Linked DNA regions of Homo sapiens: region 1 is linked to region 2. The links come from fine-mapping of genetic effects on gene expression. A gene starts in region 2. The other region holds a variant in brackets. All regions are shown on one strand. Distances are from middle to middle.

What was found. PIP is the estimated chance that this variant, and not a neighbour inherited with it, causes the effect.
Region 1: its variant is the best candidate, but not a certain one, in a credible set for the expression of REEP2 in tibial artery (GTEx, PIP 0.58).

What each region holds. Positions count from the first base shown.
Region 1 is chr5:137,975,783-137,981,156 of GRCh38, forward strand. All of the region lies in intron 10 of FAM13B (family with sequence similarity 13 member B), which reads right to left. Among named protein-coding and RNA genes, the nearest start is that of FAM13B-AS1, 54 kb to the right of the region's middle. The variant T/C (reference allele first, on the strand shown) is at 2,921.
Region 2 is chr5:138,436,413-138,441,786 of GRCh38, forward strand. REEP2 (receptor accessory protein 2) reads left to right here and starts at 2,645. Exons shown (of 8, transcript NM_001271803.2): 1 at 2,645-2,828; 2 at 4,604-4,676; 3 at 4,973-5,049. The coding sequence starts at 2,797. KDM3B (lysine demethylase 3B) reads left to right here. Exons shown (of 24, transcript NM_016604.4): 24 at 1-615. RefSeq lists a silencer at 2,473-2,892 and an enhancer at 3,278-3,811.

The DNA of each region.
Region 1 (5,374 bases), 460 kb before region 2:
AACCCCCTCTATGCAGTGTTCCCCTAACTACCCTGGGTTTTTTTTTTTCTTTCTGACATTTTTTAGTCTCTCCCTATCTAGTGAGTGATTCCTACTGACATGCTCAAATCTCCATCCTGTATCAAGAAAGCAGAAATGGGGGACGGGAGTGGGGAAGGGGGGAATATCTCTTCCACAACCAGACTGCTCAACTCTTCCTTTTTTTTTTTTTTTGAGACAGTCTTGCTCTGTTGCCCAGGCTGGAGTGCAGTGGCGCGATCTCCGCCTCCCGGGTTCATGCCATTCTGCCTCAGCCTCCCAAGTAGCTGGGACTACAGGCGCCTGCCACCACGCCTGGCTAATTTTTCGTATTTTTGTAGAGATGGGGTTTCACCATGTTAGCCAGGATGGTCTCCATCTCCTGACTTCGTGATCCACCCACCTCGGCCTCCCAAAGTGCTGGGATTACAGGCGTGAACCACCATGCCTGGCCTTCTCTTTCCTTTTAATTTCAATGCAAAACTTGTGCAAAAGGCATTCCACACACTGCAGCTTCTACCTACTCACCTGATATTCATTCTCAACCATGAAATCCTCTACCTACCAAAGCTCCTCTTTCTTTACCAATAATTTCTATCACTAAATGCAATAAATTTTCTTTAATTGGAATTTTTTGCTTAAATTATTTGATTATAAATCAGAGAAACTGTTGGAAACCTAAATATAAGAACATATGAAGAAAAGTAAAATCATCCATAACCTATCAGCCAGAAGGCCACTGTTGTTGCAGGAAGTCAGGGACCCCGAATGGAGGGACCAGCTGAAGCCATGGCAGAAGAACGTGGATTGTGAAGATTTCATGGACATTTATTAGTTCCCCAAATTAATACTTTTATAATTTCTTATGCCTGTCTTTACTGCTATCTTTGAACATAAATTGTGAAGATTTCATGGACGCTTATCACCTCCCCAATCAATACCCTTGTGATTTCCTATGCCTGTCTTTACTTTAATCTCTTAATCCCATCATTTTTGTAAACTGAGGAGGATGTATTTCGCCTCAGGACCCTGTGATGATTGTATTAACTGCACAAATTGTAGAGCAAGTGTGTTTGAACAATATGAAATCTGGGCACCTTGAAAAAAGAACAGGATAACAGCAATGTTCAGGGAACAAGAGAGATAACCTTAAACTCTGACTGCCGGTGAGCCAGGTGGAACAGTGCCATATTTCTCTTCTTTCAAAAGCAAATGGGAGAAATATCGCTGAATTCTTTTTCTCAGCAAGGAATACCCCTGAGAAAGAGAATGCACCCCTGAGGGTAGGTCTCTGAAATGGCCTCCTTGGGTGTGGCCATCTTCTATGGTCAAGACTGTAGGGATGAAATAAGCCCCAGTCTCCCATAGCGCTCCCAGGCTTATTAGGACGAGGAAATTCCCGCCTAATAAATTTTGGTCAGACCGGTTGCTCTCAAACCCTGTCTCCTGATAAGATGTTATCAATGACAACGTGTGCCTGAAACTTCATCAGCAATTTTAATTTCACCCCAGTCCTGTGGTCCTGTGATCTCGCCCTGCCTCCATTTGCCTTGTGATATTCTATTACCTTGTGAAGCATGTGATCTCTGTGACCCACACCCTATTCATACACTCCCTCTCCTTTTGAAAATCCCTAATAAAAACTTGCTGGTTTTACAGCTTGGGGGGCATCACAGAACCTACGAACATGTGATGTCTCCCCCGGATGCCCAGCTTTAAAATTTCTCTCTTTTGTACTCTGTCCCTTTATTTCTCAACCCAGCCAATGCTTAGGGAAAATAGAAAAGAACCTACATGACTATCGGGAGCAGGTTCCCTGATATCTCAAAGTGCTGGGATTACAGCTGGGATTACAGGCATGAACCACCATGCCTGGCCTTCTCTTTCCTTTTAATTTCAATGCAAAACTTGTGCAAAAGGCATTCCACACACTGCAGCTTCTACCTACTCACCTGATATTCATTCTCAACCATGAAATCCTCTACCTACCAAAGCTCCTCTTTCTTTACCAATAATTTCTATCACTAAATCCAATAAATTTTCTTTAATTATTTGATTATAAATCAGAGAAACTGTTGGAAACATAAATATAAGGACATATGAAGAAAAGTAAAATCATCCACAATCTATCAGACAGAAGGCCACTGTGAATATTCTGACTTGGCCTTTTGACTATGTGCCACACACACATGCAGTGCATGCACACAAAGAAATTGGGACTGCATTAGCTTTAGTAATCTACACTTGGTTTTGTATGTTTTGTTTTTTGTTTTTTGTTTTTTTTTCAAAATAACTTTACCTCACAACTATTACTTGGGCCTTTAAAATAATTTTAAATGACTCAACTATATCCTATGATATGGATATACTATGATTTATCTAATCATTTTCCATTTAGGACTTTTTGTGTTTCCCATTTTTTTTTCCGATGAAGAAACCCCCAGTAAGAATTCTAGTAGAAAAATCTTTGCATACACCTCTGATTTGTATGTATTTCCTTAGGAAAGAGTCCTAGATTTTGAAATTTCTGGATCAAAGGTTTAAGGTCTTTTGTTCTTACTGTTAATGTGTTTTCCAGGAAGTTTACAGCAATTTATACTTCCGATGTCTGTATAAGACCACTTACCTTAACCTACCCTCACCAGCATTAAATATATTGTTCCTGGGTATTCTTAAATTTTTTGTTCAACAGCAAAGGCAAAGAAAAAAAAAAAGCCATTTCATTAGACTTTTAACCACCCTAGCAAGCAAATAAAATTAAACTTACTCTTCTTATTTTTGTACCTTTGCCTCCCACCACCTTTTTTCCTCCTTTTACCTCTCTATTTTGACCAACTTTCAGACTCAGGAAAAAATCCCATCCTCTTTGACATTCCCAACTGCTATGGTCATGGCTGCTTTT[T/C]TTCCTCCAAAGAGCTAGAATACAGAGGTTCCCCAAGGGTTTCTTCAATCCCCGTTTATTCTATTCAAGTCACTGCTTTGGCAATGGCATTCACTCACAGACAAAATGAGCCTCCACCACCAGCCACAGCTCAAGACCTGAACATCTGCTTCATATAAACCACCTTGATATTCCAGTTCTGCAACACTGACCTCTTTTCCAATCTCTTAGTGTCTGTGTTTCTTACCCCAGTTTGCACCTAAATCTTAATCATTTTCACCTTTGGAATTTTCTCTATTTTTCCTTCCTTCCCTAGGGCTCACAGTTCAGACTTTTTTTTTTTTTTTTTGAGACAGGGTCTTACTCTTTCACCCAGGCTGGAGTGCAGTGGCATAATCTCAGCTCACTGCAACCTCCTCCTCCTGGGTTCAAGAGATTCTCCAGCCTCAGCCTCCCGAGTAGCTGGGATTACAAGCATGTGCCATCATGCCCCGCTAATTTTTGTATTTTTAGTAGAGATGCGTTTTCACCATGTTGGCCAGGCTGGTCTCGAACTCCTGACCTCAGGTGATCTGCCCACCTTGGCCTCCCAAAGTGCAAGGATTACAGGCATGAGCCACCATGCCCACCAGCTCAGATATTTTAAGTGCTCGCCAAATACAGTGCAAAAAGCCTACTGATTGTTGTTGTCCTTACCCCCAGTCTTTCCCACAAACTTTTTATGACTACTACAAAAAACCTTCTTCCTAAAATACAGATCTGGGTACATCATTCCCTCTGCTTCAAAGTTTTCTATATTTTTCTTCTACTGAGAAAATCTACAATTCTTAAGATAGTATTCCAGGCTCTACGTATGACCCAAATCTACCAATATTCCAGAATTATCTTCTACTATATATCCTCCCACAATACCCTGAGTTCTACAAGTAGCTCTGTTTCATTAACATTCAACATTACCCTGTAATCTTTACTTATACTATTCATTTTAGTTTCTTTCACAAATCTTGAACCAAATCCAGCCCTATAAAAAGCCAAGTTCAAAATCCCCCTCATTCCAAGACCTTCCATAACTACCCTGGCCAGAAGTTCTTTCCTCTCTTCTGCAAGACTATAGTGCCCTAATAGCACTAGTCATATTCTGTATTAGAAAGTATGTGCATGTACAACCTAGATTATCAAGTCATTGAAAACTTAAATCGACCAGGCACGGTGGCTCACGCCTATAATCCCAGCACTTTGGGAGGCCAAGGCGCGAGGATCACCTGAGGTCAGGAGTTTGAGACTAGCCTGATCAATAAGGAGAAATCCTGTCTCTACTAAAAAAAAAAAAAAAAAAAAAAAATTAGCCGGGCGTGGTGGCACATGCCTGTAATCCCAGGTACACAAGAGGCTGAGGCAGGAGAATCACTTGAACCTAGGAGACGGAGGTTGCACTGAGCCCACATCACACGACTGCACTCTAGCCGGGGCGACAAGAATGAAACTCCGTCTCAAGAAAAAAAAAAAAAAGAAAGAAAACTTAAATCAGGTATTTTTGCTTATACTGTCCAAGTAAACAGGTATTATTGTGTATTGCCCAACTGAACTAACTTATTCAAATAATAAGAGTATCACTGAACTTCTTAGCTGGGGTTGGGGGGAAGAAATGGTGACAGGTTTTTCAAGGCCAAGAACCCATCATTCATAAAGGTTTCCTAAAAACAATTTTAGAAAGAATTAGTTCCTGCTCTCTTTATAAAGTAATTGATACACTAATTTCTTTTTTTTTTTTTTTTTTTTGAGACAGGGTCTCACTCTGTCACCCAGGCTGCAGTGCAGTGGCACGATCTCAGCTCACTGCAACCTCCACCTCCCAGGCTCAAGCAATCCTCCCACCTAAGCCTCCCAAGTAGCTGGGACTACAGGCGTACGCCACCTAGCCTGGCTAATTTTTATTTTTGTAGAGACGGGGTTTCACCATGTTGCCCAGGCTGGCCTTGAACTCCTGGGCTCAAGCGATCCACCTGCCTCAGCCTCCCAAAGTGCTAGGATTACAGGCGTAAGCCACTGCGCCCAGCCTAATACACCAATTTCATTCAACAAATTATTTACCGAGTTGTTTACTAGCTTACTATGTGCCAGATGCTATTCTGGTCTTACATCAACAAATGCTTAATGAATACCTACTAAGTGTTCTAGATAATAGGGATGTAATAAAGAACAAAACAGACAAAAATTTCAGCCCTCATAAAGTTTTTTTTTTTTCTTCAAAGACAGGGTCTCACCGTGTCGCCCAGGCTGAACTGCAGTGGTGTGATCACCACGCACTGCAGCCTTACCTCCTGGGCTCAGGTGATCTTCCCACCTCAGCCTCCCAAGTAGCTGGGACCACAGGGGAGCACCACTACACCTGGCTATTTTTTTTTTTTTTTTTTTTTTTTTTTTTACCATTTTTGTACAGATGGGTTCTCCTCCTTACATTGCACAGGCAGGTTT
Region 2 (5,374 bases):
TTCCTTTCGATATAAAACTCTTTGAAGAAATATGATTTTTAGAAATCAGCTACCCATTATAGCACAAAATCAGCCAAAGCAGAATTTTTAAAAATTGGCTTTTTTAGGATTCTTTTTCTCCCCCTCCCATCTTAGTCTTACCTTGAGGGAACAGTCATATGAGAAGGAACTTTGTCACATCTAAGCTGTGGTGTGTTCCCCATGTGTGTGTACAACACTGGTGACTCCAGGAACCATTTTCACCTATTACCAGTGTTCCCTGGGGACTCCTCTTAATGTTTCCAAATGGGAAGGACAGTTGATTTCCAACATGAGGTTTTTTGTTTTTTATCCAGAAATATTTTCAGCAAAACTTTCCAACTGAGTGGAGTCTGATTAAGGATTTATTTGAAAATGGTGGGATTCATTGGCCCATAGGTACATTGGAAAATGTATATCTCTCCAGCTGTACTGTAGTGCCCTGCAGGCTGTTTATATGTTCACAGTTACTTTTTTTTTTTTTTTTAAATAAAAGTCATTTAATGTAGAATACTTTTAATTTCACTTTCTGTATTTTAATTTTGTTGAAGGGCTGATTGGGATTTCCATGTTCTTATTAAAAATCTAACAAATCTGTTTGGAGTGGACTAAATTATTCGTGTACCAACCCTTCTAAAATCAACATCAGATTGGGAGTTGGGTTGGAGGTGGGGGATTCATTTCCAGGTCTTCATGACTGTGCTACACCCAGATATTTTTCTTTGCTTGTTGAGACTGTGCCATGTTAGAAAAAAGGAAAGTGCCAGGGTGAGGTCAGTATGGTTTGGGGAATTGGGGGTAAGGGGAAGGGGCCACATGAATTAGAGGGTAGAAAGAGAGACATGTTTCCCCATACTTTATGCTTTGTGAATGGAGTGGGAAAGTTGGGGTCCTCCCTTCCTGTGGCAGAGTCTGGGGGGAAGGGTCATGGTGTGTGGCCTCAGCAAAGTTGGACAGTCTGTGGTGGGATTCTTAAGCAGGCAGCCTGGCTGCCTACATGAAACGTGTGGCCATAGATCCACCTTAGAGATGGTGGGAGACACTCATGTGGGATTTATCAAGCAGTAATTAAAGTGTTTCATTGTGGGGTGATAACAGACTGCATTCCAATTAGGAGATGTTTTCTGGAGAGGAAGTTGTAAAGAATAGCAAGAGGGGTTATCAGAGGCTGCTTTTCTGGAACGTTTTGGGAAACATCTTCCAAAGTGTTTGAACCTGGAAATATAATTTACCAGGTTAGAAATAGACCATTGTGTTGTTCAGGGATACTGAGCTTGAATAAGACCATGACTCTTTGAAATACACAGTTCTGAATGTGTCCTTTCAGCCCAGATGGGCACAGGTTGATGCTGTGGTCACCCGAAGGATTACAACTCAACATAAAGGGTAGAGGAATGCAGAAGCTCTAAAATGGGACAGGAAAGGAGAGCAATAGGGCTGGGGGTGTTGGTGGATGGTTGGAGGTTGGTTGCTTTCCTGAAGATCAGGAGGCAGGCTAGCCTACATTCTGGATATAAATGTCTTTAGAATCAGGACATTCACTGCCACTAGTGCTTGCTGATGGGGGTGGAACTGGAGCCCCAGGACCCTCTCGCAGCCCCTCTGTTTGAAAAGAAGGTTGACCCTTTGTTGTCAGTAACCACATTGAGAGCATAAAGCTCTGTTCCGCTGCAAAGCTTAGGAGCTGACAACCTAAAAAAGCAGACCAGCAGCCCGGTGGCTCACACCAGTGATCCCAGCACTTTGGGAGGCTGAGGCGGGTGGATCGCTTGAGCTCAGGAGTTGGAGATCAGCCTGGGCAATATTGCAAAACCCCATCTTGGCAAAAAAAAACAAAAAACAAAAAAACAGGAATTAGCTGGTGGTGTTTTGGGCCTGTAGTCCCAGCTACTCGGGAGGCTGAGGCGGGAGGATCATTCAAGCCCAGGAGGTGTGCTGAGATTGTGCCACTGCACTCCAGCCTGAGCGACAGAGTGAGGACCTGTCTCAAAAAAACAAAACATCATCTGGTCAGGGGAGATCCTCTTTCAACGGGGTGAGAAGGAGTGGGGTGGACAGGTGCGGCTGTACCTGTGACTCAGGAGCTCAGGTGGATGTCTTCAGGGCCTGTAATGAGGAGAGTTTGCTAGTCAGCAGTTGGGGGATGTAACCTGTTTAAAGTAGGCTTCCTGGGGTCATCTTAGCAGCATGACTTGGTGGCTTTGTGACTCTCAACAGATTATTGAGCCTTAAGCTTCTCATTCCCTTATCTTCAAAATGAGGGCTTTTATAGCGCCTGCCTTATAGGGTGGTCAAGAGGATTCACTGGCAACGCAGTGAAGCTCTTAGCACAGGGGCTGGCACACAGTAAGCGCCTGGTGTGGGCAGGGCAGGAGGTGGGCAGGGGTCGATTTCAGGATGTAACCATGGAGACCTCCACGACAACAGCCTAGGGCTTGAAACCCAAGAAAGATGAACAAGCGATTCGAGGAAGGCAGGGCACTGAGGGTCGGAGGCGCATGCCCGGCCACAGCAGGTGCCGGGGCGGGGGCGCGCCGCCGCCGCCGCGGCGGCCTCCCGGCCTCCCCTTTAAGAGCCGCCACCGCCCACGGCCCGCCGCTGCGGCAGGGACCTCCCCTTTAACGGCGGCGCTGGGCGCTCCGCTGCCCCCGCGGCGGCTGCTGCAGCGGCTGCTGCTGCTACTGCGGCTCCTGCTGCCGCCGCCGCCGCCGCTCGGCCTCAGGCAGCTGCATCCTCGGCCGGGCCGGGTCCCCGCCCCGCGCCGCGCCCGGCCCCGCCATGGTGTCCTGGATCATCTCTCGCCTGGTGGTGTGAGTGCGGCGGCGGCGGGGGGTGATGCGGGCTGTGATGGAGGGCGGGGGTGTTAAAGCCCGGGTGGACTTCTCCGAAGCTTCGTGCAGCAGAGTCACCTAAAGGCGCTGCGTCCTTATTTGGGGCCCCCAGAGACATGGAGATGTGGCACCCAGGACTGGAGGGGGGAATATTAGGGGAGCGTGGCAGGCCTGGCTTCCCAGGGACCTCACCCACATTCTTTATTAATAACCTCTTTTATTTCTACCGTCCTTGCTCCTGCGCCCATCCTAGAGGCTGAGCAGCACGGCTTGATTTAAAAGGGGAGGCAGGCGCGTCCCCTCCCCCACCTAGCAGGTCTGGGCTGGAGGAGATCCTCAGACCCGGGCCCTGTCCCTCTGGGGGAGGTAACAGGGTGATGGAAGAGAGTGGAGCAAGGCAGGGCCTCATCATCATTCCGCAGCTCAGAGCCATCACCAGGCCCCTTGGTCTCTCCCTTCCACTCACTGTCAGGAGACTGGGGACGAGGGCATATGCCCTTAGGCCCCCTAGGGAGGAAGTCTGGGTATCGGGAAGCAGAAATGCTCGGAGGACAAAGTGTGAGAGGTAACTGGGAGAGGGGATGTGTGTGCTCAGCCTGGGATTGTGGACCCCGCTGGGGGAGGACGCTCCGTGGCCTTCATTCCAGGCTGCCAGCCACACTGTGGAGCTGTGTCTCTGGCACCTCCCCGGGCCCCAGGAGGGAACACACACCATTCCCCACGAGCCCAGACTTTGTCCTTGAGGATTCTGCTCCGCACTCCACTTGCACCAGCCGGTTTGGAAGTATCCCTCCTGTCCATGTGGAAACAGGCGACAGCCACACATTGTCAAGGGGCTGAGCCTGACAGGGGCTCCTCGTGGTTCTCGGAGCTATCCCCTGCCCTAATGAGGACACTGCCCCTCGGCCTCCACCGTTGGGGACTGACACCGGCAGCCCCACCCTGCTCCCTTCTTCCCATTCGGTACAGCCGGGCCGGCCAAGTGCTTCTGTCCTGGTTTACTCTAGACTCCTTCTCTTCCCCCACCCATCCCAGGGGGAATGGAGGGGCCTCACGCCTCCATGTGGCCTTCAGGGTGGCTGCTTCTCTCTTGCCTGGGCAAGCCCCAAAGGGCATCGGTCCTCTTCTTTCCCGGCCTGTGTCTTGTCTGCATTCTGTACTTGGATCACCAGCGGGGCCCTCCCCTGAGCCCTGTCCCTGTGGTGTTTACATGGGGGAATAAGCCTCTTTGCCTCTCTCAGGGCCTCCTGCCCCTGTGCCCTCTGTTCCCTAGGGCCCCAGGGCCACAGTGGTACCTCTGCCTGCCAGGTAGGGTGCCCTGTTAGGTGGTGTCAGGTTCCCTCGCAGAGCCTGGCTCTGAGGGAGGTGGAGGGTAAGGGCAGATGGGTGTGAATGGGCATGAGGTCAAGAAGGAAGACACCCTGTGGCAGTGACCTGACTCCCAGTCTCCATGACATATTTGTGTGTAACCAAGGATCATGGCGCAAGGGACTACATTGGACCCTCTGGCCTCTGGGCCTTTCCCTGCCTCCGGGGCTAGAGAAAAACTGAACAGTGGAGCGGGGAGGGGGCATCACCCTACCTGGCTGGGCATGTTCCATGCTGCTTTGACCTTAACCCCTGACCTGAGTTCATCAGTCCAGCGGGGAGTTCTGTCTCTCTTCCCATTACTTACCCAGGGGCTGATGCGGAGCTGGGAGGGAGAGGCCACTGCCCTTGGCTGAGAGGCCCAGTAACCATGCCTGCCTCCCTAGGCTCATCTTTGGCACCCTGTACCCAGCCTATTCTTCCTACAAGGCCGTGAAGACAAAAAACGTGAAGGAATATGTGAGTGGATGACCCTTCACCCCCTACCCAACCCACATGGCACAGAGAGGGGAGGGCACTGGGTCCTATTACAGATGGGGGTGACTTTGCACCAACACTGTCAGCCACTAACAAGACCCACCAGCAAAGGAGGGCCCTGGGTGTCCCACACAGCGCCTCCAACATGGCTGGCAGGCAGAAGTGGGGTCCTTGGTGTTCTCCCCAGCCCAGGCATGTTCAACAGGCAGAGCTGGGGTCCTGGGTGTCCCTGGCCCCTCAGCCCCGTGCCCCAGCCAGCGCTTCCCTCTGTCCCTCAGGTGAAATGGATGATGTACTGGATCGTCTTTGCCTTCTTCACCACGGCCGAGACGCTCACGGATATAGTGCTCTCCTGGTGAGGTCCAGCGTCCCCTCCTGTATCTCAGGGCCCAGGGCCTCTGCCTTTCTCTACCCAGCCAGCCAAACAAAAGACTGGGCCTGGGGGTGAAGCTCCTCCCATTCCTGACAATTTCATGGGGTCCTTGATATCTCCCCTCTCATGCCTAACTTGACCTGCAGAAGAACAGACATAGTAGTGCCAGGCGAGGGGGCTCACACCTGTAATCCCAGCACTTTGGGAGGTCTAAGTGGGTGGATCATTTGAGGTCAGGAGTTTGAGACCAGCCTGGCCAACATGGTGAAACCCCGTCTCCACTAAAAATACAAAAAAAAAATAGCTG